Homo sapiens: one gene and its partners. The protein of the gene in region 2 purifies or fractionates together with the protein of the main gene of each other region. This does not show direct contact. Each region holds a gene or a part of one and is shown on either strand. Other genes may lie near its edges.

Region 1 (2,684 bases), on a different chromosome or scaffold from region 2:
GTTTAAGTCACTTTCAGACATGAATGAACACAGGATATAATATAGCCAATGATCAGAATTGGCAGAGGAAATAAACACCTCCTTTCTGCATCCTAGAAACACACACATTTAAGTGCCATTTTGAAGCAGGCACTATACCACAGATACCAGGTGAGGAAGTCCTTTCCCAGACCACTCCCAATTCCCAATTTCAACTCTTCAAGGGAGTAATCATCTACTAGAAGACAGACAAATGGGAATGTTCTTACCAAAGAGAAACTACTCTGGCTTCTTTATTTCTGGAATGTTTCATGACAATAACCATCAACTCAAACTTCTTGGCTTTCAGTAAACTTCCTAAAATTAGGAAGGAACAAATCTAGTTCAAATCCTATCAGATTTATTTCTCAGCTGAAAAAAACAATTCTTTTAAGGTCTTCCAACAGCTAATTTCAAATTCTCCACGTTTCTTGGAATAAAAATGCTGCTTGCAATATTAAACAATCATAAATACACACACATTATGTAATTGCCTGTTTATTTAGTGGCACCAGTTTTCCAAACTAGAAATTATTTCTACTTTTCATCTAACATACAATCTGCAACCATTCGCAGGCTGAATGCAATTTTTCAATGAACTTGAAAACAAACAGTACATTCTTAAAGTTAGAACTGAATTCACATATTTTCTTTGGACCAGGAAATAATACATAATACAAAATATACATTTATGGAATTTCTTTAAAAGTGTGGATCACATAAACTGCAAAGTGGGTGAGTTGCTACGGAGAATTTTGTTACACATTGTATTTAAGAAAAATATTTCTGCAATTATATTATTCTTAACATTTATAGAGTTTAAAAAATGAATATATAATGCAACATGCTTTTAACATGTACATGTCTCTCCACTCATAACATTTATACAAATTAAGTGATATAACTCATTTCAAGAGTGAAATCAATCACTATTGGGGCATATCACTACAAACAAGATATTTTCCTGCAGATATGCTATTTAGTCAAGGGATAACCAGGTAAGATAATGGTTTCTATGTTCCAGAAGTCCCACAAATGGGAATTAAATAAGCTGTCATTAAACATCTAATTTTGGCAACAAATGCAAAATTCTATACGTTTGTTACATTGTACTTATTATATTTTAGAAATCTCATTAACTGTGTGCATTGGTGGTGGTTGTCCGACTTGGATGTTATTTTAACATCCTGAATTAGTAAGTAAATAACCTAATTCCTTAGAATATGAAATGAATTGAACATTTAATGAATCCTAATACTAGAAAGCTCAAAATCTTAAAACCTGGAGATCTGACAGGTAAATAAATGTATTACTTGTTAATATAGTATATCTGCACTATGGAGGCCAAAAATGTTCCAGATACATTCCATTTCTGTTTTACCTCTTTTCTGTTGAATTTCTAAAGTGGCAAATCTTAGAGAAAGACATTAACCTCCAAAACTTCTGAATACTATGTTTTTTTTTCACCTTTTAATCACTTTCCCCACCCCAAATATAATATTTTTTAAAAAGTATATTTTAATGTCAGATTCTAGCCAGGTCCCCTATCTACCTCTAGAGTGAAACAATTCCTTAAAATAGACTCAAGTTATTTTCATGCCCTAGAAATATACTTTTGGGCTTTGCAGGAAAAGGGATGATGCCCTATTGTACTTTAGAATGGGCTCTTAACCAGGGGGCCCATGAACCACTACAATATTGTAAACTTTAGGGAGATATGTATGTTATATACGCATTTTCCTGGGTAAATAAGTCCCTAGGATTCATCAGTCTCAAAACGCCTGTGACCCCAAAAGGTTAAGAAGCATTGCTAAAATGATTTTGTGTCATTCACTGTACCTAATTAGGATATAACTAATTTTGTTCCGCAGCTACCCGATCTCTTACATCAATCTAACTTACTTTAGATAGTACCATACAAATGCACGTTACTAAATAGTCTTATACTGGATCAGGAGGACTATGTAAAAGAAAAAGAAAAACTCTAAACAACTTTTCTAAACATTTAGTTTAATGAGAAAACCATTAGTTGAAAACTGGGTTTTGGAGCAATGAAAAGAAATGAAGGGTTGGGTTTTCTAGTGAAGAAACATTGCATTAATTCTTCTCAGTTGTTTCTATGCTGAAGAATCAGTAACTTATTAATTTCCTTGCTGGAAAAATCAAATTATCTGAAGCAGCAAAGGTTCATTCTTGTTGGTTTATGTGACACAATAGTTCTTATAAATTTACAGCCACGTACAAGGAAGACTTTCCTATGGCTTTTAAAACAATTAAGAGTAATCCTTCCCTACCTATCCCACTGCCATTTCCCCATTCCTCCATCTCCCAAGTTTTCTCATTTTCAGCCCGGTTTAACACAGTATTAGCTGGCCTTGATGAAGTAACACACTAAGCTTTCTTGCTCAAGAAAATGGAATTGGCCTGTTTCTGTTTGAAAAAAAGAGAAAACACCAAGAGGAAAGTAGAGGAAACAAGGGCAATATTTCGTGCAGGATAAGGAAGAAAAAAAGTCCACTTTGTTGTTATATCAACTTAATCTTTTTTCTCCATCTCATAAAAATATAAGTTGTCAACTGTAATTTCAATACCATCTAAGTTTTTCTAATTAGCACTCCTACCTGCTAGTAATATAAATAGGAAAACAGTGAGAGCAGAAGCCACTA
Region 2 (3,500 bases):
GGGTTCAAGTGATGCTCATGCCTCAGCTTCCCAAGTAGCTGGGGTGACAGGCATGTACCACCACGCCCGGCTAATTTTTTGTATTTTTAGTAAAGACAGGGTCTCACTCTGTTGCTCAGGCTGGTCTCGAACTCTTGGCCTCAACCAGTCCTCCTGCCTTGGTCTCCTAAAGTGCAGGGATCACAGGCATGAGCCACCACACCCGGCTTCGAGTTTTTGAGCTAGGGAGGGGCAGAGGGAGCGAGAGGAAGACAGTGGTGCTGGCAGGCGAGTCTGCGCCTTACAGGTCGAGGCAGTCGTGGGGAAGGGCCTGGCAGGATTGACCTGGCCGCCTCCCAGCAAAGGCAAAGGAGCCCTGGAAGGAACCACAGAGCCCAGGAAGCACTGTGCCAGGATGGGGCAGGGGTGAGAGTAGAGAAGGCACAGTGGCTCCTGCCGGCTTTAATCCTTGACCACAAGGGGGAGAAATGCCAGGGCCATCCCCACAGACGCAGCAGCGTGGTCCCCGAGTCAGGTCTGGAGAGGAGGCCTTGAGGCCCAGACAGGGCTAGGGCAGAGAAGGCTGTGTGCATGCGGAGACTGCTGGGCCCCTGGAGGCCAGCACAGAGGAGAGGTGAGGCCAAGCCAGGCAGGACATGGGGACGCCTGCATCAGCCTGGGACAGTCCACCTCAAGGGTCAGAAAAAAAGGGCTGGGCAGGTGGCAGAACTTCCAGGTTTAGGTTTAGAGAAGAGAGACCTGAATGCCGTAGACAGAGCTGGACTCCATCCTTGGGTGATAAGGGATCCCCGAAGTTTCCAAAGGAGATGGGTGGGGAGGGGTTCCATGCAGCATTTTGCAAAGAGTCCCCTGCAGGGTCAGCCAGGGTCACAAGCAGAGGCGGGAGGAGCCAAGGGGTTTGGCTCAGCAGGGGGACCCTGGGGGCCGATAGCAGCCGTGCACCATTCCCTCCTGAGACTCTGTGCTTAGGGGCTGGTCCTGATGAAGGATGAGCAGGGCCCTGGGCTGCAGGGTGGCAGTGAGGAACAAGGAAAGGCCAGGCGAGGGCTGCTGCCCGCTGACTCCACCACCTCTCCAGGGAGGAGCGGGGCCGTGGGCTGGGCCATCCCGCCTGGTCCAGGTCACTGAACGGCCACTCTGGTTTCCTTCCATGCCCAGGGAGCCCTCGTGTGGGCAAGATTGTTATGACTGCTGCCGCCAAGCACCTGACACCTGTCACCCTGGAGCTGGGGGGCAAGAACCCTTGCTACGTGGACGACAACTGCGACCCCCAGACCGTGGCCAACCGCGTGGCCTGGTTCCGCTACTTCAACGCCGGCCAGACCTGCGTGGCCCCCGACTACGTCCTATGCAGCCCTGAGATGCAGGAGAGGCTGCTGCCTGCCCTGCAGAGCACCATCACCCGTTTCTATGGCGACGACCCCCAGAGCTCCCCAAACCTGGGCCGCATCATCAACCAGAAACAGTTCCAGCGGCTGCGGGCATTGCTGGGCTGCGGCCGTGTGGCCATTGGGGGCCAGAGCGATGAGAGCGATCGCTACATCGGTGAGTCCTGCTGCCCCTACCACAGCCCACCTGGGCCAAGACCCCTCCTCACTGGAGGGCCCAAGGCTGGGCCACAACTCTGGACCCGCGCCTGAAACCTGGCCCCACTGCCAGAGCCCGGCCTTGAGCCACAGCTCCAGTGCCATGATTCCGTCTCTGTGCTTCTAAGTCTGTGGCCCTATGAGGCCAAACTCTGGTCCCTCACCTTGGATTCGCTGAGCTCAGATCCCAGGGCTCCAGGGCTCAGCGTGCTAAGATGAACTCCCATCCCACCACTGGCTATCCTGAAAGGCTGTAACCTCAGATTCTCCGAGCCCACAATCCCCAGGTTCTAAACTCCGAGAGTCCCGTCCTGAGCCCCCAGTCTCCTGGGCCGTACGGCTCAGCAGCTCATGGGACACTGCGGCGCCAACATTCTGGGACGCTGTTGCCTCATGAACTCCAAGGGTTCTAAGATCCCATCACCCCTGACTGTGAGACCAAGGTCGGGGGATTCTCTGTGTCCCACAGGCCCTGAGCAGGCTGGGGAAGCTCTAGAGTCCCTTCTGGGGGGCTGTGGGGAGACTTTCTTCCCTAAACACTCCAAAGCCTGAAGCCTTGGGAAGTCAGACCTTGGGATCCTGGCCTAGAGCCCTGGCCTGTGGCCCTGTCCCCACCTCTACCCCCACCCTGGGGGCGGTCCTGACTGTGGCCCCAGGGCTGAGCTGTCTCTGGTGCCTGCAGCCCCCACGGTGCTGGTGGATGTGCAGGAGATGGAGCCTGTGATGCAGGAGGAGATCTTCGGGCCCATCCTGCCCATCGTGAACGTGCAGAGCTTGGACGAGGCCATCGAGTTCATCAACCGGCGGGAGAAGCCCCTGGCCCTGTACGCCTTCTCCAACAGCAGCCAGGTGGGGGTGCGGCCGGGCTGGGCAGGGTCAGGAGCCCGCAGTGGGCAGCACAAGTGGTGGCAGCAGGGGGGGCACCAAAATCCAGTGGCTTCAGGACTTTGGGATGGTGGACCTCTTGGCTCTGTCTCTGCCCACTCTCCTGGAAGCAGCTGAGCCTCACCCACCCCAACCCTGTCCCCAGTCTGGGCCCCACTCTCCTAGGCCTTCAGTGGGCAGCTTCCTGGGGTATGGGCCTTCTCTAGGGTCCAGTGTTTCCTCTAGGTCAGCCCCTGCCTTTGTCCTTCTTACACATCGGGGCCTGGTGGCCACATGACCCCTCAAGCCTGGCTCTGAAGGCACAGGCAACGTGTCGGGGATGACCCAAAGGTGCAGGTCCAAGAATGAGCCCTGATCCCCTACCCCTGCTTAAGCTGCAGAGGCAGCCTGGGAGGCCCAAGGCCAGAGTCCTCAGATTAAAAAACACCAAGAGGTACCAGCAGTCCCTACCCACCCCGCCCCCTTCCCCGGCCCTCAGCCAGTTCCTCGATTCCCTCCACTTGAACTTTTTTTTTTTTTTTTTTGAGACAGAGTCTCACTCTGTCACCCAGGCTGGAGTGCAGTAGCACAGTCTTGGCTCACTGCAACCTCTGCCTCCCGGGTTCAAGCGATTCTCCTGCCTCAACCTCCTGTGTAGCTGGGATTACAGGCGTGTGCCACTATGCCCGGCTAATTCTTTGTATTTTTAGTAGAGATGGGGTTTTGCCACATTGGTCAGGCTAGTCTTGAACTGCTGACCTCAGGTGATCCACCTGCCTCGGCCTCCCAAAGTGCTGGGATTACAGGGATGAGCCACCGTGCCCGGCCACTTGAACTTTTTTTAAATAAACTTTGTATTGGGAAATACTTTTAGATTTACAGAAAAGTTGCCAAAATGGTACAGAGAGTTCCCATGTACCCCACACCTAATTTCCCCCATTTAATGGTGCTTAGATGGGTCAAAACTAAAAAAGTGATGGCAGGGCTGGGCGCGGTGGCTCACACCTGTAATCTCAGCACTTTGGGAGGCCAAGGTGGGAGGATTGCTTG
Region 3 (4,100 bases), on a different chromosome or scaffold from region 2:
TAAGAGAAGAACGAAGAAATAAGGGCAGAAACTCCACTGGGGAGTACTTGTCTAACCCTGAAAAAGTTCAAGGCTGTTGTTCAAGGTCTGAATTTTTCCCTTGAGATTTGCTTGTAGTCCTTAAAGTCATCTTCAGACATCTGATCAAGGCAGCATCCGCGGAAAATTATAAGGTGGGTGGCTGCACTGGAGCCTGTCCTGGCTCAGGGGCGCCGGTGAAGAGTGATTTTTTTCCCTTGGCCTTGGGGGATCAGAGGGGGTGCCCTCTGCTATGCAGGAAGCCCTCCTTGCCCGCTAGATAGTTCTCATTCCTCAGGAGATACTCTGTGAGGGGCCGGCGTGTTTTCTCCATCTTGGCACTTACCCTCAGACCCTCCTAAGTACCCGGGAGGGCCGTGTTTTTCATCGGAGGTTGAAATGGAACCTCCCCCTGGGTGCCCGGGGAGAGTACCTTGGGGGCAGCGCCCCTCCTTCCGGAGGGCAGCATCCCCGCGGGGGCGGGGGCTCGGCTTTGATCCCAGGGCACCTTTTGTCCCTGGAGACGCTCTGCCAGCCAGGTACGTGGAGGGAGTGCAGCCCGCCCTCCCGGGCGACGCGCGGGGCTGGGGCGGGCCGGCGGCTCCGGGGAGTGGCGGCCGGGAGCCCGCGAACGCGGGTGGGCGCCGTCGCCTCACTAACCGGGCGCCTCCGGGAAGTCCGGGCGGGGTCCGCCGCTCACACATAGGATTAGCGTCCTCTAAACTCCATCCCTGGGAAAAGCCGCCGCACTTCTCACCCAAACTCGCGGAGCCGAGGGGCTGGGCAGGGGTTGGGCGGGCGCGGGGGCCGGCGAGGCGGATCCGGGAACGGGTGGACCCGGGCGGCCAAGCCCCTTCAGCGCCGGCCCAACCGCCCCGGCCCGGGCCAGTCCAGCGGGGCGGGGGCCGGCGACACAAAGGCGGCGGCGGGTCCTCCGGGCCTCCGGCCTCGGGCAGTCGCAGGGCGCCCCGGGCCGCCGGACCTCCCCTCGCGTTGCGGCCCGTCAGCCGGCGCCGCCCGTCGCCCGCCCTCAGCCGTCCGGCGAGGCGCGGCTTCCTCCGCCGGCGCGGGGTCCCCTGGTTAACCCCTGCCCGGCAGCGCGGCCGCTGATTGGAGAAGGCGGGGCGCCGGGGCAGCGGGGACCCCCCCCCACCTTCCTCGTCCCCTCCCCCTGCTCCCCCACTGTCGGCGCTTCCCCCACCCCCCCAGGACCCCCCCCGCCTCCCAGCCGTGCAAATCTCGCGAGGAAACACGCGGTTTCACTAGTGTGTTTACACCGATCACTACTAATCCGGACCGAACCGATCCGGATTAAGGGGCCGGAGGCGGGTCCTGGGCACCAGCGGTTCCGACCCCCCCGCCCTCCGCGCCGCACCCGAGTGGCCCCCAGCCGAGCGGGCCCCCACCTCCTGGCCCGGCCTGGGCCCTCCTGCGCCTCCCTTGGCCTTTGTCCGGCGCCAGGAGGCCGGTCCCGCGCCCCCCGCGGCCGCCCGGGCCCGGGCCCGCGTCGGGCGCCTGGCTCTGTACGCGAGCCCGGGGATCTGCGGCCTTCGTGCCCCCCCTCCCCCGCCCGCCCTCTCGTGGAGCCCGGCGCCGGCGGCGGCTGCCCGGGCGGGGGGTTGCGGCGCTCAGGAGAGGCCCCGGCTCCGCCCCGGGCCTGCCCAGGGGGAGAGCGGAGCGGTCCGCAGCCGGGTCGGGTCGGGGCCCCTCCCGGGAGGAGCGTGGAGCGGCGGCGGCGGCGGCGGCAGGTGAGAGGCTGAGCCCCGGGCGGGGGAGGACTCCAGGCCTGGGGCATTAACCGTCCTGGGGACCCCTTTGGCCTGAGGAGCCTGCGACCTGGGCCCAGCTCGGGGCCGGCTCCGGACCGCAGCTCCTGGGCGCTGAGGCGGGAGGGGCTCCCTGAGGGCTGCGGGTCGCTGAGGGGCCGGGCAGAAGATGGGGGAGGCCCAGGCGGCCCCGGCCTGGGATTGGGGCCGGCGGCCGGAGGAGAGACGGGGGCCCCCAGGCAGCTGGAGGCCTCGGCAGCCTCCCGGGCGCCCCCGAGAGCCGGCCCTCCCTTCCTCCGTGACAGGTGGGCCTGGAGTTGGGGAAAGTTTGGAGCCGGCGAGGGGCGCCGGGACCAGGCCCCATCGCTCCTGCTTCCCGGCTGTGGGCTGCAGGGAGGATCCCAGTCCAAGGCCCCGCTGGAATTAGACGGAGTGGCTATTTCCTTAACATGAGTTGACATTAAACGGAATAACCGCCGGGGCGTCATTTTCCGGGCCGGGCCTGGGGATGGAGGTTTGGGAAGTGTTGCGAGAGACCTTGGGGTTTGGGAGAGACTGCAACCTTTGCCATTCCGACCTCGATTAGGGCAGGGCAAGACGCGAGGAAGGCCACGGGGGAAACTCATTCTCCCAGTCTCTTTTTTTTCCTTCTTTTTCTTTTTGTAAAGATGCATTTCAACCTTTCTGAGAATTTCCTAATTCTCTCTCTAACCTGCACTTGCATGTGTGGGTGAAACTTTAATTTGTCACCTTTTCATTCCCCTTTGCCCCAGGCTCTCAATCCAGGAAGGGAAATGAAACTGAAGGACTTGTAAGGGGGTTGTTACTGGAGATTGTAGAGTTGTTGGATTGCAGAGGAGAATGTTCGATTCATCTTTTCAGTAACTTTAAAATCACACCAACCATTCCAACTACTTAATAATGTGTTCGAAGGGGTTCTATGTAATATGTTTCTTTTCCACTGTTAATATTAAAGAGAGGTTTTAAATGGGTCGTGTAGGAGTTGGTCTCTTGCAAAGGATGAACATATTTGCTGAAAGTAGCCTGTGCATTAATTGGTTATGGAAGTTTAAAAATGGTGTCCTCCTGCCCCTCCCTGCTTGGAAGAAGGGCTAAAAGCAGATGTCCAGAATCAAGAGAAAACTACTGCAGGGAGTGGTCAGAAAAAGATTTTTTAAAGGGATTGTTATGGAGCTATATTAATTTACTGAGTGAATGGAGGTGGATGGTTTTACCGTGGGCTCTCTATTAAATTTAAAATAATTCCTTTTCTCATGAGCTACTGTGAGCTCTTCAGAGACAGGAGCTGTATAATAGTGATTTTGCAGTTATTTGTAGCTTCTGATTCATCCTATATTCTTTTGAAATTATTGTCAATGATTCATATTTTTAGTTTAAGGACTACTTCCTGAGTGGGAAATAAATATCTGAAGATACTTAGCTAGATTAAGGCTGATAGAAGGAATTTTCTTTTTGCAGGCTAGTTCTTGTTTTGTTCTTTCCCCTGTGCTCAACTTTTACAGAAATTATATGAAGGGTTTGAGGGGTTTATTTTTGCTGTTAAAATCAAATCAGAACTAGGGAAGAAAAAGTGGCTGTCATAGAAGAGGACTTCTGAGCTGCTTTAAAACTTTTCAATATATTACTGTTTGATGCAGCACATAGTAGTCTACCACTTGTATGCTATATTTACTTGAGATTTACCTGCATTTGATCTTTCAGTGAAATAATTACTGTGAGTTTTGTTCTACAGAAAATTGCCTCCTCACATTTTAGTGTTTATGGTTTCACAGCCTACTTTTTCTTTTTCAGCAGAAATGATGGAAGAATTGCATAGCCTGGACCCACGACGGCAGGAATTATTGGAGGCCAGGTTTACTGGAGTAGGTGTTAGTAAGGTGAGTAAAATGATGATCATGAACACTATTCATATTCTAATTTAAACACATTTTTTAAATGATTAAGAGCAATTTGGGTAGGCCCTTCTGATAGTTTGCAGGGGAGAAGATTTGGGTCTTAATTTCAGTGAACTTTTAGATCCTACTGGTCATTCCAGTAGTCATTTAACATAGTAGGTTTGAAAATGTTCTATATGGGAATATATGTTTCTTCTTCCTTTCTGGTATAGGAGAGGTTTCTCATGGTTCTTGTTACAAGGAAACTAACAGGATGTGTGTATAGATTCTATGCCATATTTTGTTAAAACTTGTCAGCCATTCAGAAAGAAAATTACAAGGCATTGCATAGCTTTGTTACATTGGACTTTGGAGGTAGTTACATGGTAGAGTATTGAAAAATTGGCCTCTGTGAAGTCTG
Region 4 (2,156 bases), on a different chromosome or scaffold from region 2:
CCGACTCAGGCTGTGTCTCCTTCACAGCGGATTCCCTGCGCTGCGCAGCCAGACTCATTGTGAGAGGTGTGGCCTCCAGGACCACAGCCTGCCTGCTGACCTGTGTGGCCCTACTTACCCCAGGCATGAATACTGACCCCCAACTCGTGTGACCCCCACTGACCATGCCTGTCTCAGTGTGGCCCTCATTGACATCCCTGCCAGAGTGTGATCCCCCTGACTCATAGGCCCTGTGTGGCCCCAGAGTCCTCTGCCTGGGTGTGGCCCCTGACTGCCCAAGGCTCAGCCAACCACTGACTCTGCTACCAAGAGCATGCCTTTGCCATTGTGGTCACTGCTGTCTGCCCGCCTGCACACCACCCCACTGACCACTCTAACTGTGACCCTACTGGCTACACTGTCTGCCGTGGCTCCCTCTGCCCGCCTAAGTGTGGGCCCCGTGACCACTCCAGTCCCTTGAATCCACTGACTGCCTACGGGCGACATCACTAGCAAGTCTGCTTGAGTGTCCCCCATTTTTACTTCCAGTCCCAGGATGTTCCCACTGACCACTCCACTGGCATCTCTGCTTGTTTCCCCATTGCCCTCTGGCCCCCAGCTTCTCCCCCACTGACCACCTTAAAGTGTGACTCCCAGTTGGCCACTCCTAACCCATTGGCCCTGTGGCCCTGCCCACCTACATCCCCCCCACCCCCACCACTGACAGATCCTTCTTGGACCACTTGTCCCAGCTCGAACCCCACTCGCTAGTGTCCTCTACTGCCTGTTGTGCCCAAGTGTATGTCCTCCTTGTCCCTGCAAGATGGGTCCCCATCCTGCTCCCTCTGCACTGTCCTCCCTCTCCCACCCCCAGAGGTCCCAGTGACCATCGTGCGGGGGCCACACGACCTAGAGGTGACCGAGGGCGACACAGCTACGTTCGAGTGCGAGCTTTCCCAAGCTTTGGCTGATGTTACCTGGGAGAAGGTCAGATCCCAGCCCCAGCCAAGCCCACTTCAGTGTAACACCAACGATAATAATGCCCCAGACAGAAACAGCTAATATTCCTTGAGCGGATGTGCCTGGCACTGTGCTAAGATTTGCATTATATTTAATCCCTTACTCCAAGGACAACTCTAGGAGGTAGGTCTTGTCACTGTAATACCTATCAGGAAACTGATGCTCAGTGGGAAAAATTACCTACCCAAGGGCAGACAACAGGTAGAGCCCATATTCGAATCCAGGTTTGCCTAACTCCAGAATCCGTGCCCATGTCCCCTGTGATCGATACCTGGCTCTGGGCTTCCCGAGTGCCTTGGCGGCCCTAAGGTCCCCAAAGGGTGACGCTTTTTCAAAGAGGCTCCTGGCACGACCCCAAAGGCTTGGGGACAGTCCGACCCCAGCCTGGGAACACGAGACACGCATAAACGCGCCTCGAGACCGCTTGGCATCAACAAAGGGTGCGCCGCCTGCCAGGGCCGGGGTCGCCTGTGCCCAGCCGGGCTCGCCCCGACCCTCTGCAACTCCCGCCCCTAGGACGGGAACGCGCTTACGCCTAGCCCGCGGCTCCGGCTCCAGGCCCTCGGCACGCGCCGCCTTCTCCAGCTGCGACGCTGCGGCCCCTCGGACGCCGGGACCTACAGCTGCGCGGTGGGGACGGCCCGCGCCGGACCGGTCCGCCTGACCGTGCGCGGTGGGTACGGGGTGATGTGGAGGCTGGGCACTGCTTTGGGCGCGAGACTTGCGGAGCTGTCTTCCCCGGACCCTGATGACCGCGCGTGCTTCTAGAAAGGGGGCGTGGAGGGGGCGTGACCGGTAACTGCCCTCTGCCCCGCCCCGCTCACGCCCCGGGCTCCGCCCCAGAGCGTACTGTGGCGGTACTCTCCGAGCTGCGGTCGGTGAGCGCCCGCGAAGGCGACGGCGCTACGTTCGAGTGCACCGTGTCGGAGGTCGAGACCACGGGGCGCTGGGAGCTCGGAGGCCGCCCGCTGAGACCCGGAGCCCGCGTCCGCATCCGACAGGAAGGTCTGCCCGCCTGGTTACCCTTTCGGGCCCCTCGCTGCCCCGCCCAGGCTCGAACAGATCCCGCCCCACCGGGACAAGCCCCGCCCCTGGCTCCGACGGGCCCCGCCCCACGGCCCTGTGAGCCTCGTCCCTGTTCTTTCCCCCGCCCCCAG
Region 5 (3,500 bases), on a different chromosome or scaffold from region 2:
TGGGGTTTCACCATGTTGGCCAGGCTGGTCTCAAACACCTGACCTTGTGATCCGCCCACCTCGGCCTCCCGAAGTGCTGGGATTACAGGCATGAGCCACCGCGCCCGGCCATTCTTTGAGTTTTCATCAACCAGTGGATACAGAAGTGTGCTGCCCATTTTGCAGATTAGAGAATTGAGGCTAGTAAATAAGTCGGGACTTAGTTGATGCCCTTGCTCTTTGAGTTCTGGGCTCTGGAGGCTTTGGATTCAAAGCCCTGCTGCACCATTTACTCATCATGTGACTTTGGGAAGGTGACCATTCTCTGAGCCTCACTTCTCCTCCTCTGCAAAATGGGATTCCAGTTCCTACCTTGCAGGACCGCTGTTGTAGAATCATACATGGAGATTGCTCAGTCCTGGGCCAACTTGGCCTACGAGGAGATACCAGTAAACGACCTTATCCGCGGGCAGGGACTGCTCTTGGCTTCTGTCTCATTCTCTCTGGTCCAGAGGAGGTGTTCCATAAATATTCTCAGAATGAGTGAATGGCTGAAGGGAGTGAACGGAACAGTCAGTGGATTAAAAATTCATTAGCTCATCCATTCACAAATAGTTTTTGAGCATCCGTTCTGTGCCAGGCACCGTTCCCAGCACTAGGGATATCACATCTCAGGGCCCTGGACAGGAGGCCCTGCCCTTTTGGAGCTTTCAGTCTAGCTGGGGAGACAGACAGTTAATCAAGTTAAGTCTTCGTGTGTCAGCAGGTGATTAAGGCCTGTTTAGAAGAAGCAGTGGGGAAGGGGCTGAGGGAAGCTTGGAGAGTTTAGTAGGGTGGTCAGGAAAGCCCTCACTAAGAGGTGATACTGAAATAAAGACCTGAAGGAGGCAGGTGAGAAGAGTTGCCTGGGGAAGGGCATTTTTTTTTTTTTTTTTCCTGAGATAGGGTCTCACTCTGTCGTCCATGCTGGAGTGCAGTGGTACGATCTTCGTTCACTGCAACCTCCGCCTCCCAGGCTCAAGCAGTCCTCCCATATCAGCCTCCTGAGTAGCTGGGACTACATGCATGCACCACCACAACTGGCTAACTTTTGTATTTTTTGTAGAGGCGGGGTCTCTTTGTGTTGCCCAAGCTGGTCTCGAACTCCTGGGCTCAAGCTATTCTCCTGCTTTGGCCTCCCAAAGCGCTGGGATTATAGGCGTGAGCCATCACACCCAGCCAAGAAGGACATTCTGAGTATCGGGGCCAGCTAGGACAAATGCAGGATTGCACAGAAGCCGTGTGGCCAGTGCAGTTACTGAGGGAGAGAAGATGGTAGATGAGTTCCAAGAAATAACGGAGGGGCTGGCTCATGGAGAGTCTGGAAGGTCACGGAGAGATTTTGCCTTACTCTTAGTTGGAAGCCTGTGGAGGAGCCTTTCTCATTGGGGCTCACCTGAGCCCTGGAAGGCAGAAGTGACTAGAGTGATTATTTGTTCAGTTCTCCCAGGGATGGGAGGCACCTCATCCTGGGAGAGCAGCTCCTTAGTTGCATACACTGGCTGCCTGAGAGCATTAGGGCCTCAGGCTCTGGAACCCTGCTTGAGAGAGGCTGCGAAGTGTTCAGAGCAGGACAGTGCCAGGTGCTGGCTGATACTTCACAGAGCATCGCTGTGGCGGCTGCAGAGGACAGACAGGCCCAGGCATTGGAGCCTGAGGCCAGTCACACAGCATTGCAGGCTTGGGGTGGTTGAATGGGATGGTGAGAGGAGGTCAGATTCTGGGTGTATTTTTTCTTTTTTTTTTATTTTGAGGTGGAGTCTCGCTCTGTCGCCCAGGCTGGAGTACAGTGGCATGATCTCCCCTCACTGCAACCTCCGCCTCCCGGGTTCAAGCAATTCTGCCTCAGCCTCCTGAGTAGCTGGGACTATAGGCGCCCGCCACCATGCCTGGCTAATTTTTGTATTTTTAGTAGAGATTTTGTATCTCTACTTGTATTTCACCATATTGGCTAGGCTGGTCTGGAACTCCTGACTTTGTGATCCGCCTGCCTCAGCCTCCCAAAGTGCTGGGATTACAGGCGTGAGCCACCACGCCCAGCCACTTCTGGGTGTATTTTGAAGGTCGAGCCCACAGGATTTGTGGAAGGATTGGATGAGGAAAAGAGGGGCAGATGCCGAGGTTTTTTGTCTAAGCACCTAGCGGGATGGGGGGTTGTCACTCATTTGTCCAGGAATTACCTTCAAGCTGCCTCCTGTGTGCACTGCTTTAAAGAATAGTGAACCAAACAAAGATCGCTTCCTTTGGGGAGCTGCCTTTCCGTGAAGAAATTTCCTACTTGAAGCCTGACGTAGTAAAGATCGGGGGAGGGTTAGACAGATACAGTGGTCCCCAACCATTTTGGCACCAGGGACTGGTCTTATGGAAGACAGTTTTTCCACAGACTGTTGGGGGGATGGTTTTGGGATGAAACCGTTCTGCCTCTGATCATCAGGTGTTAGATTCTAATAAGGAGCGCACACCTAGATCCCTCGCATGCATAGTTCATGGTGGGGTTCGCACTCTTACGAGGATTGAATGGTGCGCTGCTCCGGTAGGAGGCTGGGCTCAGGCTGTAATGCCTGCTCGCCCACCACTCACCTCCTGCTGCATGGCCTGGTTCCTAACAGGCCACGGACCACTACTGTTCCATGGCCCGGAGGTTGAGGACCCCGAGATACAGGACAATTCTGTGGCAAGCAGGACTGTCCCCTCGCCAAAGATGGGACATCGAGGCTCCTTGGAGCACCCTGTGGCCACCTTGCAGCAGCCTCTGTTTCCCCATGTTTCCATGACCTGGTGTCCATCTGTCTTCCCCAGTTTGGGAGCTTCTCTCCGAGGAGGACCTGGGCCTGGTGTGGCACCTGCTGTGTGAGCGGGGCCATGTCCAACGGCCTTCTTGGGGACTTTGGGTCGGGGAGAAGTTCTGCCTGGGTTTTACTGCCTTCTCCCAACCCCACACTGTCTCCCCTGGCAGCGGTTGATCGACAAGACCAAGGTGACATATCTGAAGTGGCTGCCTGAGTCGGAGAGCCTGTTCCTGGCATCACACGCCAGTGGCCACCTGTACCTGTACAACGTCAGCCACCCCTGCGCCTCGGCCCCGCCCCAGTACAGCCTGCTGAAGCAGGGCGAGGGCTTCTCTGTCTATGCTGCCAAGAGCAAGGCACCCCGCAACCCGCTGGCCAAGTGGGCGGTGGGTGAGGGGCCCCTCAACGAGTTCGCCTTCTCGCCCGATGGCCGGCACCTGGCCTGTGTGAGCCAGGATGGCTGCCTGCGCGTCTTCCACTTCGACTCCATGCTCCTGCGTGGGCTCATGAAGAGCTACTTTGGGGGCCTGCTGTGTGTGTGCTGGAGCCCTGACGGCCGCTACGTGGTGACGGGTGGCGAAGATGACCTGGTCACCGTGTGGTCCTTCACCGAGGGCCGCGTGGTGGCTCGAGGCCATGGCCACAAGTCCTGGGTCAACGCTGTGGCCTTTGACCCCTACACCACAAGGGCAG
Region 6 (2,744 bases), on a different chromosome or scaffold from region 2:
ACATTGCACCTGCCAGAGCTCAAAGCTGCCGGGCCCGCCTGGGCCCCGGGACTGACGACAGTGCTTCACCTGCTGGTCCTGGCGCGACAGATAGAAGTGACGGTTGGCGCTGACTGGATCAAAGGTCAGATTGCGATAATCTGTTGGGGAAAGGAGGACAGCAGTGGGCTGGGGGAAGACAGCACAACCAGATCTCCATTTATCCGCTGCTAAACCTCCGCCAGGCACGCTGAGCACCGGCCGTCACCATAGCACTTAATCCTCGCCACGACCTCGCAGGCGGAATCCTCTATCAGCCCCGTTCACAGCTGAGAAAACTGGGGCTCTGAGAGCCATTAACTCAGTGTTAAGTGGAAGAATTACGGGTCTGTGCCCCAGACTCTGTCCTTCAACGCACACTGGCTGCGTCTGCTTCAGGGTGGATGTGCACGAGGTGTGCAGCGGGTGGGACCAGGCTCAGATGTCCCGGCAGGACAGTCAAAACAAGTGCCCCCCTCACTCACACGTGCATACGAACATGCACACACACACGTGCTCACAGCACACACAGGCACTTCCTTGCACACGCACACACAGGGGCACACATACACGAACGGCCTCCTTACTCTGCCAGAGTTTCCTCCTCAGTGGACAAACTGTGCTTGGGACCGGTGCCAGGGGACCTGGGGCCTCTAGGGGGCAAAGCAGTGTTAAGGGAATGGTTGGAGAGGTCACGATGTGTGGGCCCTGACCCGCCTCCACCCCCCCAGCGGGAGGGGCAGCTGGACCCAGGACAGCAGGGGGAGGCCTGGGGTCAGTCTTACCCACGGGGGCTAAGTCCACAGGCTTGGCTGGTGCCCCAGGGTGGCTCCCCTCTTCCAAGAGGAGGCCACACAGCCGGCTTAGCAACTGCTTCAGGTCACCCAGCTGTTGGTCTTCATCCCACTGCAGAGGGGTCAGTGGCCCAAGAGGCCCTGGGGGCTGGAGGAGCTGCGATTCCTGAGCCCCAGGGAGAACAAGTAAGCCTGGGCCTGAGGGGCAGGGAAGCAAGTCCGCCACCTATGCCCTGAGCCCTCGCACCTGCAGGAAGGTCTGCTCATCCACCTGCTCCAGGAGCTCCCGGATCCTGCAGCCATGGCGAGCCACAGCCTCCAAATGGACCCGCAGCCGCTGCTCCTCGTCTCGAGCCTGTGCCAGCGCCTGCGTCTTGGCCACCTCGATGCTCCTCAGTGCTGTCGTGTGCTGTATTTCCAGGGCCTGTAGCAGGCTGCTGAACTTGCCGGAGACCCAGGAGGCCAAGATGCAGGCCGAGTTCTGGGCGGGAACAGGAGGGGCTTCAGGGTGGCCAGGGCCCTGTGCCATACCAAGGGAGGCTAGGGCCAGGGCTGCCTGCTGGGCTGAGGGTCAGGGATGTGGGGAGGCAGGGTCCCGGGAACCTCCCCAGGACCCCTGTGCCCAGCTCCCTGCTCAGCCCCGCTCCCTGCTGCCTGGTGTTCCAGGGACCAGCTGGTGGCCGCCCCAGGATGCAGTGTGAGGCCATGGTGGGCGGGCAGGCACAGGCCTCGTACCTGGATCTGGCTGCTTTGCTTGCGCAGCTCTAGTAGCTGGCCTTCGGCCTGGGTGGCCTGCTGCTGGGTAACCTCCAGGCTGGCTCTCAGCTGGGCCTGTGGTGCGGGCCCACGGGACAAGCAACAAGAGAAGGCCAGGATTGGCTGTGATGTCCTTTCTCAGACAACCAACCATGCCTGCAGACACCAGGCAGCCCCTCCCCACGCCACCCCAGGCCAGCCTCCAGAGCACCGGCCTCGGTCTAACCCAGGGAGAGTTGGGGCCGTGCCCCGGGGGGGTCCAGACAAAGTCCTTCCTAATCTGCAGCAGGGTGGTGCCTGAGCAGAGCGGAAGCCTTGGGCTCAGGACCCAACTTCCATTCCCATTTCTACCTCTTGCATGCTGAGCAAGCTGAGGCCAAGCACCTGTCCTCTCTGGGCCTAACCCCCCACCCATCAATACAGGAAAGCGATAATGCTGGCTCAGGAGGCCTCGCAGGGAGGACCCCAAACACTAAAGCCGTTGGTCCCTGTCTCACTGCAGAGGGGTCAGTGGCCCAGGAGGCCCTGGGGCTTGAGAAGCTGACTGCAGGGACCTCCCAAAGCACCAAAGCTGTCTGACAAGTGGGCAGTTACTTGCTGGATAAACTAGATTCTTCTGGGGATCCGGCCAGTCCCTGGCCCTAGTTTTGAGACTGAGAGGGGAGGAAGGGACCCCTATTCGGTTGCGCTCCCTGAGTCCCTTGGGAATCAAAACACCGTGCTCTCATGAGAGCAGGACAAACCACGCAGGTCCCAGGGGCTCCATTCCCAGCACCTGGTCAAAAGCTTCACCACCTTGTTTCTGCTCCTCCCGCAATGCACTGAGATGGGGACCATTACTATCCCCACATCACAGAGGAGGAAACGGGCTCAGAGAAGTTGATAATTTGGTCAAAGTCCTCAGATCTTCCTAAGCCCAGAGCTCCTCCGGGCCCCCAGCCTCCAGCATTTCACACAGGAACACAGGAGGCCGGAGGGCAGGCTCTCCCAGGGCACCCAACCCTCCCCCAGGGACAGGCACCCCCATGTCCCTTTCCCTCTCTCTTGCAAAATCCTGGCTCCCCTGGTGCTACTGGCTGCCCCTGTCGCTCCCTTCCTCCACATGGCCCTCATCTACCGGCCTCCAACTCAAACTTCCGTGCCTAGCTCAGTCTTCTGCACCCGCCCATGAGCAGT
Region 7 (3,500 bases), on a different chromosome or scaffold from region 2:
TAATTTTAAATTTATTCTTTACTTTTAATTTAGTCAAAACCTATTAAATTTTTCATGTATTATATCTGCTGTGGTAGAGAAAGAACTGGAATTTAGAAGTAAGGCAGATCTACATTTAATTCTAGACCTTATGTTCAAATACAGTTTTACCTTGGGGAAAGCAGTTAAGCTCCCTGAGTCCCAGTTTTTCTGTCTGTAAATAACTATGATACCACCTATGTCACTGGGATGTTTTTAGGATTATAGAAAGTAAGAATGAAAGAATGCCTAGTATGTAACTGAGGCATTGTAGATGGTCATTTCTGCTACCTTCCTTTCTTCCTTATATATAATTCATTCAACAAACATTAGATATAATTTCTGTTTTGAGGGGCTGCCTGTCTCCTGAGAAAGATAAGACGTATAAATGAGTAAATAGAGATGCTATGATGGAAGTATTATGGGTACAGTGGGCCACAGAGGTAGCATAGTGAGCTCTACTTGATAGGGAAAGATGAGACTATCAGCAGAAGCTTCACAGAGGTAACTCTTGATCTGGGTCTTACAAATGAGGTTTGCTTTTACAGTCCTCATTAGGGAGGAGAGGGAAATGGGGTTAGAGATTTAGAAGACATTCCAGAATTCAGGCATATATTCACTTTACTGTGTATTTATTTTAATATCAAGTTTTACAAATTGATTCTTTAAGAAGGAAGATTGCTCTTAAAATCTCCTAATTGGTGCTGGACGTACTTTAAAAATTATCCTGAATGTGTGACATGTTAATAATACTTAGCATTATTTGCTGCTGAATCCCTAATTGGGTGAAGACTTAAGATAACGGACTCTGGTTGTTTGTATTTGGACACCTGTGATGATATCCCAGGTTTGCTCTTACTTTACGCTTATGGAGTATTTTTTTTATTATTAGTGGTAGAATATTTGCCAATAAGTTGCCTAATAAGGTTACTAATTTCCTTAAATTCATATTTACAAGCACCTTTGGAGGGGGTTATTTCAATTTATAGGATGATATAGTATAAAAGCATGAACTTGCTGTTATTTAATGTTTTTAAAACTGTGGTTATGACCTATTAATAGACCCTGAAATTAATTACTAGGTTATAACCAGCATTATTATTTTTTTCTTTTTCTTTTTTTTTTTTTTTTTTGAGGTGGAATCTTCTCATTCTGTCGCCAGGCTGGAGTGCAGTGGCACGATCTCAGCTCGCTGCAAGCTCTGCCTCCTGGTTCACGCCATTCTCCTGCCTCAGCCTCCTGAATAGCTGGGACTACAGGCGCCTGCCACTATGCCTGGCTAATTTTTTTTGTATTTTTGTAGAGGCAGGGTTTCACCATGTTGACCTTGCTGGTCTTGAACTCCTGACCTCAGGTGATCCACCCACCTCGGCCTCCCGATGTGCTGGGATTATAGGGGTGAGCCACTACGCCTGGCCGCATTACTTTTTCAATGAAATAGAATAGATTGGAAAATATCAAAGTGCATTACATGTTATCATGATATTTATTCCTCTATAAAACTTTTTAGTTTTATTACATACATGCATCATACACAAATGCAAAATCTCAGAAGTACATGTGTACCATGAAACTTCCTATTGAGGATTACAATCATAAAAGTTTGAAAATCACTGATTTCAAATATTTCAAAAGTGTTGAGTATAAACATTTCGAAGAATTATGCTTTTACTAGGAATTTGTTAAAAATGAATGTTGTTTTATTCTCTTAATAGAAATCAGCCAAAATTACACCGTGTGCGCTTTGCAAATCATTGAGATCCTCAGCAGAAATGATTGAAAATACCAATAGCTTGGGGAAGACAGAGCTTTTCTGTTCTGTTAATTGCTTATCTGCTTACAGAGTTAAAATGGTTACTTCTGCAGGTAATATTGGTTTCACAAACTATGAAATGCAATGGTTGAAAAATAATGGTTATTGCTTTGTTTTTAACGGTTTTTTTTGGTTGATTTTTAAGGCACATTTAACATATTTCAGATATTTGTTGTAAAATATCACCTGTTACCTTGATTGCTTATTTATTTACTTGCATACCTATTTATGCATTTCCCCCTTACCAAAAGAATTTCATATGGCTTCTTTAATATATTTTCTTTTTCCCTACCTAATTTCTTTGAAGTTTCATTTATCTGGTAGTTTCAGGGTAGACTTTGACCAATTTAAATTGGAAAGAAACATTTTCAGTATTATGTTAGTTTTTGTCTATATGTGACATGATTTAGTTTCAGTTCCTACAACTTACCCTGGCTCTTAAATTTTCTTATATTGTATAGTATTATTTAATTTCTCATACTTTTGTGTACATTTGTACATATTACTCATTGGTTTTTATTTTGATTTGCTAAGGTGTACAAGTTCAGTGTAACAGTTGTAAAACCTCAGCAATTCCTCAGTATCACCTAGCCATGTCAGATGGAAGTATACGCAACTTCTGCAGCTACAGCTGTGTGGTAGCTTTCCAGGTATGGCTTCAGGAACCTTCCTCTTCTTCAGTCAGTGAGTCACCTACTGTATGAGTCTGTTCTTGCACTCCTCTAAAGAAATACCCTAGACTGGGTAATTTATAAAGAAAGAGGTTTAATTGGCTCACAGTTCCACAGGCTGTACAGGTAGCATGGCTGGAGAGGCCTCAGGAAACTTTCAATTATGGCGGAAGGCGAAGGGGAAGCCGGCACGTCTTACATGATGGGCTCAAGAGGAAGAGAGAGAAGCGGGAGGTGCTACACTTTTAAACAACCAGATAGTGAGAACTCACTATCACCAGAACAGCAGGGGAGAAATCCACCCCCATGATCCAGTCACTTCCTGCCAGGCTCCTCCCCCAACATTGGGGATTACCGACTGGACATGAGATTTGGGCAGGGACACGAATTCAAACCTATCACCTACTATAGTAATGCACATTTATTAGGTGTTTGCTAGGGCCTGGGTTGTATAAGTTTCTATATCATTCCTATTAAACTTGGATTTGTAGTTCATTCTGTATTTGGAATTTAATTTAACTGCCTTCTATAAAATTGAATGGTACTTTTATCACCCATATTATCTATTGGGAGGATATTATTTTTGAGGAAGATTATTAGTTAAGTTATTTTATTTTTTCATCATAAATGAGACTCCCCCCATTCCGTAATAAGCTGCTCAGAGGCAGGAACATTGCCTGTTAACAGATGTACCTTACATGCCTAGAACGGTGCTTGGCATATGTAGGCACACAATACTTCTTTGTTTTAACAAAGATTAAATTGATACTTTTTGTTGTTTTGTTTTTCCAGAATTTATTCAACAAACCAACTGGAATGAATTCTTCAGTAGTGCCCTTGTCTCAGGGCCAAGTAATTGTAAGCATCCCCACAGGTTCCACAGTGTCAGCCGGAGGAGGTAGCACATCTGCTGTTTCTCCCACCTCCATCAGTAGCTCTGCTGCAGCTGGTCTCCAGCGTCTCGCTGCCCAGTCCCAGCATGTTGGGTTTGCACGAAG

What was found.
Region 1: the proteins of ALDH3B1 (region 2) and PPM1A purify together in Homo sapiens (co-immunoprecipitation; 3 studies listed by BioGRID and IntAct, with this or other methods). This does not show direct contact.
Region 3: the proteins of ALDH3B1 (region 2) and TLK2 purify together in Homo sapiens (affinity purification with mass spectrometry; one large-scale study listed by BioGRID and IntAct). This does not show direct contact.
Region 4: the proteins of ALDH3B1 (region 2) and OBSL1 purify together in Homo sapiens (affinity purification with mass spectrometry; 4 studies listed by BioGRID and IntAct, with this or other methods). This does not show direct contact.
Region 5: the proteins of ALDH3B1 (region 2) and DMWD purify together in Homo sapiens (affinity purification with mass spectrometry; 2 studies listed by BioGRID and IntAct, with this or other methods). This does not show direct contact.
Region 6: the proteins of ALDH3B1 (region 2) and TRIM65 purify together in Homo sapiens (affinity purification with mass spectrometry, with the first as the bait; one large-scale study listed by BioGRID). This does not show direct contact.
Region 7: the proteins of ALDH3B1 (region 2) and ZMYM4 purify together in Homo sapiens (affinity purification with mass spectrometry; one large-scale study listed by BioGRID and IntAct). This does not show direct contact.

What each region holds. Positions count from the first base shown.
Region 1 is NC_000014.9:60,296,904-60,299,587, reverse strand, and holds the end of PPM1A (protein phosphatase 1A), read right to left. Parts: 3' UTR 501-2,684; downstream 1-500. UniProt on the Homo sapiens protein: Enzyme with a broad specificity. Negatively regulates TGF-beta signaling through dephosphorylating SMAD2 and SMAD3, resulting in their dissociation from SMAD4, nuclear export of the SMADs and termination of the TGF-beta-mediated signaling.
Region 2 is NC_000011.10:68,020,327-68,023,826, forward strand, and holds part of ALDH3B1 (aldehyde dehydrogenase family 3 member B1), read left to right. Parts: intron 1-1,158; coding exon 1,159-1,545; intron 1,546-2,268; coding exon 2,269-2,435; intron 2,436-3,500. UniProt on the Homo sapiens protein: Oxidizes medium and long chain saturated and unsaturated fatty aldehydes generated in the plasma membrane into non-toxic fatty acids. May have a protective role against the cytotoxicity induced by lipid peroxidation.
Region 3 is NC_000017.11:62,477,525-62,481,624, forward strand, and holds the start of TLK2 (serine/threonine-protein kinase tousled-like 2), read left to right. Parts: upstream 1-1,300; 5' UTR 1,301-1,766; intron 1,767-1,919; exon of another isoform or gene 1,920-1,953; coding exon of another isoform or gene 1,954-2,089; intron 2,090-3,243; exon of another isoform or gene 3,244-3,263; intron 3,264-3,596; coding exon of another isoform or gene 3,597-3,601; coding exon 3,602-3,682; intron 3,683-4,100. UniProt on the Homo sapiens protein: Serine/threonine-protein kinase involved in the process of chromatin assembly and probably also DNA replication, transcription, repair, and chromosome segregation. Phosphorylates the chromatin assembly factors ASF1A and ASF1B.
Region 4 is NC_000002.12:219,552,384-219,554,539, reverse strand, and holds part of OBSL1 (obscurin-like protein 1 isoform 1 precursor), read left to right. Parts: coding exon 1-66; intron 67-853; coding exon 854-966; intron 967-1,515; coding exon 1,516-1,672; intron 1,673-1,842; coding exon 1,843-2,004; intron 2,005-2,156. UniProt on the Homo sapiens protein: Core component of the 3M complex, a complex required to regulate microtubule dynamics and genome integrity. It is unclear how the 3M complex regulates microtubules, it could act by controlling the level of a microtubule stabilizer.
Region 5 is NC_000019.10:45,786,346-45,789,845, reverse strand, and holds part of DMWD (dystrophia myotonica WD repeat-containing protein), read left to right. Parts: intron 1-2,974; coding exon 2,975-3,500. UniProt on the Homo sapiens protein: Regulator of the deubiquitinating USP12/DMWD/WDR48 complex. Functions as a cofactor that promotes USP12 enzymatic activity.
Region 6 is NC_000017.11:75,891,208-75,893,951, forward strand, and holds part of TRIM65 (E3 ubiquitin-protein ligase TRIM65), read right to left. Parts: intron 1,644-2,744; coding exon 1,548-1,643; intron 1,333-1,547; coding exon of another isoform or gene 1,294-1,332; coding exon 1,060-1,293; intron 979-1,059; coding exon 804-978; coding exon of another isoform or gene 672-803; coding exon 606-671; intron 141-605; coding exon 1-140. UniProt on the Homo sapiens protein: E3 ubiquitin ligase that plays a role in several processes including innate immnity, autophagy or inflammation.
Region 7 is NC_000001.11:35,383,709-35,387,208, forward strand, and holds part of ZMYM4 (zinc finger MYM-type protein 4), read left to right. Parts: intron 1-1,733; coding exon 1,734-1,884; intron 1,885-2,365; coding exon 2,366-2,481; intron 2,482-3,294; coding exon 3,295-3,500. UniProt on the Homo sapiens protein: Plays a role in the regulation of cell morphology and cytoskeletal organization.